Regions from separate parts of the Homo sapiens genome. Here region 2 is linked to region 1. The links come from fine-mapping of genetic effects on plasma protein levels. Region 1 holds a variant in brackets. A gene starts in the other region. All regions are shown on their reverse strands. Region 1 overlaps SARM1 (sterile alpha and TIR motif containing 1). Region 2 holds the start of HS6ST1 (heparan sulfate 6-O-sulfotransferase 1).

The links. PIP is the chance, under the fine-mapping model, that this variant and not a neighbour inherited with it causes the effect. The UK Biobank Pharma Proteomics Project read protein levels with antibody pairs (Olink). The fine-mapping took linkage between variants from a reference panel, not from the people measured, so its PIPs are less certain.
Region 2: HS6ST1 starts here. The variant in region 1 is fine-mapped to the plasma level of the HS6ST1 protein (UK Biobank, PIP above 0.99).

The regions. Positions count from the first base shown.
Region 1 is chr17:28,389,926-28,394,434 of GRCh38, reverse strand. The region is part of intron 7 of SARM1 (sterile alpha and TIR motif containing 1); the gene reads right to left. Among named protein-coding and RNA genes, the nearest start is that of SLC46A1, 14 kb to the left of the region's middle. The variant A/G (reference allele first, on the strand shown) is at 1,829.
Region 2 is chr2:128,316,502-128,320,499 of GRCh38, reverse strand. HS6ST1 (heparan sulfate 6-O-sulfotransferase 1) reads left to right here and starts at 1,632. Exons shown (of 2, transcript NM_004807.3): 1 at 1,632-2,463. The coding sequence starts at 1,937. RefSeq lists silencers at 1,290-1,699, 2,394-2,623 and an enhancer at 3,625-3,774.

The DNA.
Region 1 (4,509 bases):
CAATTTGGTGTCAGAAGAAAAACATCACACTCCTGCGTACAGGTTGATCCATCATGCGCCCTGCCAATTGTACTCCTTACTTATTTCTCAAATCCACTATTTTTCCCTACCTCCACCCCACTACCACCCTCTTCCAATCCCCATTATCTTTAAGCCCCCACCAGGTCTTTCCTCATCCACGCTTGTCTTCTCTAATTCACTCTCCACATTGCCCTTTCATGTAGCTAATATTTGCAAAATGCACATCTGACAAATTAGGTCCTGTCACCCCCTACTTAAAATTCTTCAAGACTTTGCATGGTCTTAGAATAAAGTCCAAACTCCTTCATGTGGCCTGTGAGACCCTATGTGGTTGGCCACAGTCCACTTCTCAAACTCTACCCCTGCCCTGTCCTCCCAGACACACAAAATAAGCTTCCTTGTCCTTCCCCCTTGATAATGCCCATTCATTTTTCTGATCTGAGCTCAATCAACTCTTACACAGGGCAGTTGTCTCCCACTGCCCTGACCAAGTCAGTTCCCCTATTATAGGCTCTGCAGAACATATTATAGTTGCAAATTTTAATTAATTAATGGGTAAATTACTCAGTATTTGTCTTCTCTGCCAGACATGAGGAGGGATCATATCTATTTTTCACTGACCTTATATCTCAGCATCTTTCACAAAGCCCTTATAGTTAGCCCTTGCTAAATATTTAATAGATGGATGAATGAATGAATGAGAAAACATAGCACAGCAGTTAGGGCTGCACTCTGGAATCATCAAATCGGGGTTTGCACTGAGTCTCTGACACAGGCTCTACGACCTGAGGCAAAAATAATAGGTTCTCAAAGTCTCTGTTTTCTCTTTTCTTTCTTTCTTTTTTTTTTTTGGCGGGGGGCAGGGGAACAGGATCTCACTTTTTGCCCAGGCTGGAGGGCAGTGGCACCATCAAGGCTCACTGCAGCCTCAACCTCCTGGGCTCAAGCCATCCTCCCACCTCAGCCTCCCAAGTAGCTGGGACCACAGGCGTGTGCCACCATGTCCGGCTAATTTTTTGTATTTTTTAGTAGAGATGGGGTTTCACCATGTTGCCCAGGCTGGTCTCAAACTCCTGGCCTCAAGTGATCCTCCCACCTTAGCATCCCAAAGTGTTGGGATCACAGGCCTGCACTACCACACTCGTTCCTCTGTTTTCTAATATATAAAGCAGGATTAATGATAGTCCCTGTCTTCAGGATTGTTCCATGGAATAAGCGCAACATTCCATGGCAAGTAATTAGAACAGTGCTTTGCATGCAGTGTATGCTTAATACGTAATAGGTGTTATTATTTCCTCTTCTGTAAAGTGGGGATAATAAAACCTACCTCAAAGCGTTGTTCTGAGGAATTATTTGCTAGTAATCGGGTTCCATTAAGTGCTTATTGAATGTTTTTCTTCCTCTCAAGAGGGAACCAAAGGGATTTTACTTTTTTGAGTGCAGTTCACTTGTGGTTTTTCCCTATTGATTACCCACTAATGTGGCTTCAGGGAAAGGAGTTTTAAAACCAGAGGCAATTAAGCACCAGAAACAACCAAAGAGGGATGACGGAGCCTCTGGGGCCGGTCCAAGACAAAGGCTCCTCTCACCTCTTTGCCATCTGCTGGGACGACAAGGGGTGCCAAGCATTCTTGGGAAGTGGAGCCTTCCTGGGGAAAGAACATGCGTAACTTCGTCCTTGACTGGCTTCCTGGGGAGCCGCTCCATTTTACAGATGGAGAGAAAAAAGCCCAGAGAGGAAGGGATTTCCTCCTAAGCCACACACACGCCCAGCCCACGAGGGGCCGGTCCTCTGACTCAAGCCTCG[A/G]GAGTCCAAGTCCAGGCTGTTTCAGCCAAGCCCTGCTGCCTTTCTGCTGAGCATTGGAATGAATCCTGAGCCTGCAGCAATTTATTTGGAAATTTTTAGAAATTTGTTTCATCCAGAATTATACAAAACCAAAGACAGTACAAATTATTCATCGCACAGATTCAGAGGCTGGCCAAGAAAGGGATAATGGCGGCCGTGTGTGGTGGCTCATGTCTGTAATCCCAGCACTTTGGGAGGCCAAGGCGGGCGGATCACGAGGTCAGGAGATCGAGACCATCTTGGCCAAGATGGTGAAACCCCGTCTCTACTAAAAATATATATATATAAATTAGCTGGATATGGTGGCGTGTGCCTGTAGTCCCAGCTACTCAGGAGGCTGAGGCAGGGGAATCACTTGAACCCGGGAGGCGGAGGTTGCAGTGAGCCGACCAAGATCTCACCACTGCACTCCAACCTGGTGATAGAGCAAGACTGTGCCTCAAAAAAAAAAAAATAATTAAATAAATAAAAGAAAGGGATAATGGTTTGTTCAGGATCACCTAGCTGGTTGAGAACGAAAACAATTAGAGTCAAGTCCTCTGGCTGGGCACGGTGGCTCATGCCTCTAATCCCAGAACTTTGGGGAGCCGAGGCAGGCACTGAACTCCAGGCTTGAGCTCAGGAGTTCGGGACCAGCCTGGGTGACATAGCGAAACCCTATCTCTACTGGAAAAAAAAAAAAAAAAACGGAGTCAAGTCCTCTAACCTGGTAAATCTACTAGATATGTATGGCTCTCCCAGGCATGGCATCTCAGCTTCATCAGTATCACTTGTCTGCTTAATCATTGATTCAATTGTTCTATAAACTCCTCTACAGCCTCAGCCTCTCTCTCTCTCTCTTTTTTTTTTTTTTTTTTTTTGGTGCAATTGCATAGAGCCTCCTTTGTACCATGCATGGTTTTAGGCACCAGGGACACAGATGAATGAGGCAAGGTCTGAAGTCTCATGGAGCTCACAGACACTCTTTTCTTTCTCTCAAAAGGCTGCCTGCCACGTGCTCTGGGTTATCAGCCATGTTCTTCCTGGATGCTCAACTGCCCCAGTGCCCCTCCCCAAACCAGGCCTAGTACTCAGCCCCTCCTACATGGCCTCTGGGGCTTGACTCCACACTCCATGTGGACTGCATTCCAGTGTCAGAGCCTTCATCCTAAGACCCACCGCCCTGGCATCTTCTCCTTCATGGGCTCCTTGATTTCCAGTGCTTTAAGCACAGGTCTTCTCCTGCCTTTAGACACTGCTTTACCTGGTTTCCATGGTTCTTATCCAGCCAGTGGTGTGCTGCTAACTTTATAGTAACTAGCTATTCATGGGGGAAGAAAACCCAACCAGCCAATCAACCAAACTAACAAAACTTTGATTTGTAGTGGTTGCCAATTTCCTTGGTGTAAATACTCCCACCATGGCTGATGACAAGCTACCAACATGACATCACTGGATGTGGAGTTGTGAAGAGATACAATCATCTCTGGTGTCAACCGAATCCAGCCCTACCCCATCACCTCCCCTCACACCCCCTCAGAGCTGTGCCATAGAATGCAGTGTGGATCTTGGGAAAGTGATGAGCTTTGGAGTCAGATAGATGGAATTTGAAGCCTAGCTTTTCTGATTTCTACACTAGTAGTGCAGCCAGGGGAACATTATTCTACTTTTCTGAGCCTCAGTTTCTTCATCTGTGATATGGAGAAAGCAGTACCAAGATGTATGTGGGCTTTCAGCACTGTTCTCCTCCCTACCTTTATTCCTTTGCTCATGCTGTTACCCTGGCCTGGGATGCCTTCTATTCCACTTACCCAGATTCTTAAGATTCTTCTCAAGACCTGCTTCCTCCATGAAGTCTTCCCTGATTATTCCAGTCCTTTGAGGACTAAACTCTGATTTTTTTTTTTTTTATCTTGCCCAAATTCCTACCTAAGGAGCCTAGGGAGTCATGCCCTACAAACCATAAAGTCTTATCGGAGGAGGTTTTAATTTTAACCCTATATAGCGTGGTCTGCTTTCTAACCTGACTCTAGCATAACATCACATAATAAGGGAGGAAATAAAAATATTTTAACCCCAAATATATTTCCCTGCCATATCTTGAAATTGCTCCACAAGTTTGTCTCTTGTGGGAAAAGGCCACATTCTATAGAGAATCCCCTTCCCCCCATTTTTTTCTTTTTCTTTCCGGACTCAGGAGATAATCAACAAAGAGCCAGGCACCCTTATAAGTCTGATAAGAAACATTTTATAACCTACTCCCTCTGAAGTCTGCCCTGAGAACTTCCTCTGCACAATAAAACTTGGTCTCCACAACCCTTTATCTTAACCTAAACATTCCCTTTCTATTGATCCCAGGTCTTCAGATAAACTCAATTAATTATCAACTGGAAAAATTTAAAATTTACCTATAGCCTGGAAGCCCCTGCTTTGAGCTGTCCTGCCTTTCTGAACCAAACCAATGTACATCTTAAATGTATTGATTGATGTCTCGTGTCTCCCAAAAATGTATAAAACCAAACTGTGCCCTGATCACCTTGGGCACGTGTTCTCAGGGTCTCCTGAGGGCTGTGTCACAGGCCATGGTCGCTCATAGAGTCTGACTCTTTTCGTTGACACCTTGATGCTCTCTCCCTTCTCCAAACCCCTGTGGCAAGCAAGAT
Region 2 (3,998 bases), not on the chromosome of region 1:
GACTGCGTCAAGGGGCTGCAGGCAGGTCCAAGCACACTGCAGGGCGGCCCCACCTGTGTCCCATGGGGACTGCACCCCCACTCCTATAGGAATGAGTCACTTCTGGAGAAGCTTGTCCAAGCTGCCCCCAGGACCCTCGGGCCAGGGACAGTTTTAAAGCAGCCTACAAGATGAGCAGGGGCTTTGGGGCCCTAGGTCCCACTGAGGACCCCACACCATGGACTCCAGGGTGCGCTGGGCTGTGTTGAGGGTTCTGCACCCGCCTGTCCACAGCGGATATTCTTGCGGTCCCTTTGGAAAATGCATGCCGCCCGCTCAGCTGGGTTTGGGGTGTTGGTTTTTCCAGCTCTCTGGGTTTGCTTCCAGGAGGGCTTTCTGGTGTGATGTTGTCTACGTTTAACAGCTTTACTGAGGCATAATTGACACCCCATGATCGCTTCCGGTCCCTAACAGAACGGAAGGCAGGGCACCACCCCGCCTCCCCCCCCACCCCGTCCCCGGCAGGGCTTGACGTGGACACTGGGAGCCCACGCCTGGCAGCCAGACTCGCTCCCAGAGCCCTCGCTGGCCTGAACCAACACACTAGGGCCCACCGCGGCCGGCCCTGCAGCTGTGAGATCCTGGCAGGTCCCAGCCCCACTCCTGCGCTTCCGACGGGCTGCAGCCTCCGAGTACTGCCAGAGCCCAAGCAGTGTGAGTGGGCACCTGGCGGGACCCCCCGCCCCACGAATGCCGCGCGTGCTTGCCAGGCTGGGCGGCGGCGAGTGAGGAGCCCGCACCACCCGGCCCACACACGAGCCAACGTGGAGCGAGCCCTCCGCAGCCAGGTTGGGCCCGGGCCGCTGGACTCTCCAACCAACCCACGAAAGACAGAATATTTGGTGGGCACTCACGATTCTTAAGAATTGGCTCAATGTTTTATAACTCTTTCATTGGAGTATAATAAACATGGATGGGGGAAAATGCACCTCGTCTGATATTCTTTTCAAACAAGGAGGAAGCCATAAAGCCGCTCCGCAGGCCTCTGCAGACAGCCCAACATCTCTTCAATGCGGGGCTGCGGGGCACTGTCCCAAAGCCAGCCGCAGGGGTGAGGGGGTCGAGCAGGAAAGGAAAGCCTCGCTTTCCCTCTCGGTCCTGGTGGTGGGCGGCCCCCGCCGCCCTGGTCCCTGGAAGTGCAGCCCAGTAGGCTAGCGTCTAACTTCAGCGCCCCAGCGTGCAAGGTCAAGGCCTTTCCTCCCGCGCGGGCTGCGGGGACGTGGGCGGCTGGGACTTGGGGAGGAGGGGGTACGGACCCAGGCTCCAGAAGCGCCAGCCGCCGCGCCCCCTCACCGCGGCCCCCGCCAGGAGAGCCTCCCACGCCTCGGCTCCGCACTGCCGGTTGGTCCCCCACTCCCCTGAGGGCGGAATCACTTCCCAGTCGCTGGCTGCCCGCCTGCTAGCGGCCTCGCCACCGCAGCAGACCCAGGTCCCGCGCCCAGCACCCGCGGCGAACCCCGGCACTCCGGAGGCGGGGCCGAGGATCGGCGCGGGCGGCGACGGCAAGAGACGCCACGGGGGCGGGCCAGGGGCGGACCGGGGCGGGGCGGCGGCGGCGGACTGCGGAGACGCGGCGGCGCGCGGGGCGGCGCAGAGCGTTCTCGGCGCGGAGTGGAGCGGAGCGGGCTGGTGCTGGGGGCGCGGAGAGCGCTGTGCTGGCCGGGGCCGGGAGCGGGGCCGAGCGGGAGCGGAGTCGGGCGTCGGGCCCGGGGAGCCGGGGCCGGGCGGGGAGCAGCCATGGCACCGCGGAGGGTCGGGGCCCGCGCCGCTGCGGGCGGCCTGGGCGCCGAGTAGCCGGGCCGGGCCGGAGCGCGGGCGGCGGCGGAGGCAGCTGCGCCCGCGCCTCCTGCCCTCCCAGGCCCCGCGCCCCGCGCCCGGGCCCCGGCGATGGTGACACATGCGGCGGCGGCGCGCCGGCGGCAGGACCATGGTTGAGCGCGCCAGCAAGTTCGTGCTGGTGGTGGCGGGCTCGGTGTGCTTCATGCTCATCTTGTACCAGTACGCGGGCCCAGGACTGAGCCTGGGCGCGCCCGGCGGCCGCGCGCCGCCCGACGACCTGGACCTGTTCCCCACACCCGACCCCCACTACGAGAAGAAGTACTACTTCCCGGTCCGCGAGCTGGAGCGCTCGCTGCGCTTCGACATGAAGGGCGACGACGTGATCGTCTTCCTGCACATCCAGAAGACGGGCGGCACCACCTTCGGCCGCCACCTCGTGCAGAACGTACGCCTCGAGGTGCCGTGCGACTGCCGGCCCGGCCAGAAGAAGTGCACCTGCTACCGGCCCAACCGCCGCGAGACTTGGCTCTTCTCCCGCTTCTCCACCGGCTGGAGCTGCGGGCTGCACGCCGACTGGACCGAGCTCACCAACTGCGTGCCCGGCGTGCTGGACCGCCGCGACTCCGCCGCGCTGCGCACGCCCAGGTGAGCGCCCGGGCGGCGGGATCCTCGCGCAGCTGCGCCCCCGAGGCCGGGCCGTATGCCCGCCGTGCTGTACTGGGTCGGCCCTGCCTTCCCTACCCCCTTCTGCCCTCTTGGGGGCCCCCACTCGCCGGCACCCCTCCCGACCTGCCGAGCGCCCGAGGCTCCCAGCTCCTCTGGGTGAGCCGGCTGTCACCGCGCTTTCTGACCTCGCTCTCACTCTCTTCCTTGCCTTGTGCTGCCCTACTGCCGGCTTGACTGCGCAGCGCCCGGGTTTTCTCCAGGGTCCCCGCCCGCTGCCCTCGGGCCACCTTACCTGCTGTGCGCCGTGAGGTCTGGCCCGCCGGACTTGGGGACGCGGGCTTCTGGGTGTGTGCGTGGCCTACCTGGAGTGTTGGCTTCCCCGTGCCGCTTCGGTGCTGTGGTCCCAAAAGTGGAAGTGAGAGTAGTGAGGTGCCGCCCCTGTGCCTGGAGTGCCTGCCTTCAGAGGGTGGGGGAGCTGCCAGGGAAGGGGGCTGGCTCTGCCCGCCTGCCTGCCGGTGTGTGCAGGTAGAACAAAGGCCCTGTTGACCTGGGGCTGGGGGCGGGGAGGAGGCAGTACCGCCTGTCCTCCCAGTGGGGCCTGCCAGCCGAATTCTTCCAGGCACAGGCTTGCCTGGAGAGAGGAACAAAAGCCACCCGATGGGGGACCACCTTCCCCAGGAAGCTACCAGCCAGGTTGGGGGTAGTTGAGCTGGTCCAGGGAACCTGTGCTGCCACACCCCTTCTCTGGGGTCCCCCAGCCCCATGTCAGAGCTGAGCTGCGTGAGGACACAGAGCATGGGAGGGGTGCCGGGGCAGCTCTTCTGGGAAGCCGTTTGTAGGGGAACCTGGGGTGCTGCTGGGTTTCCAGCAGTTAAAGTTGGGGTTATTTTCCTCCTGTTCCTGTTGGTGCCCATTCGTCCTGCAGGGATGCCCTGCGGGGCCTTTCTCCCCAAAGTCTGGGCTGGGAAGGGCCAGGAGCAGGGCTTCTTGTCTGCCTTTTGTTTCTCTTCCAAATTTGCCTTAGGACTGAATTTGCAGACAGGCTGGTGGTAGGAGGCTGGGCGGTTGTAGGCGTGTTGGCTGGCACTCTTGGGTCCAGAGGCTGTAGGCTCTCAGGTGTGCCTGGGGAGCCTGGAAGGTCCAGCCAGCCTGGAGCTGAGCAGAGTCCGAGACACTGCTCCCCTGCACAGACCTCAATCCTTGCTCTGTGGTCTTTCTCAGGCTGTCAGGAAATTGGGGTCCTAGAGTTGGAGGGGCATCTTCCCACTTTTCTTTCTCCCCCCTCCCCCAACTGTACACACACACACCCACACACACACACACACTGCAGCTCCCAGCCTGGGAGGTGATGTTCTGAGCCTCTTACAGCCACATTCTACACTTGGCGGTCACAGAGCTGCCTGTCTAGGGCCCCTGAAGGATTGCTTCCGGCCCAGCACTTAGTCTGCTCTGCACAGATGCACGTTCCTGCTGCAGGGCCCCCCTAACCCTGGTCCAGCTTCTCTGTGCTAGGC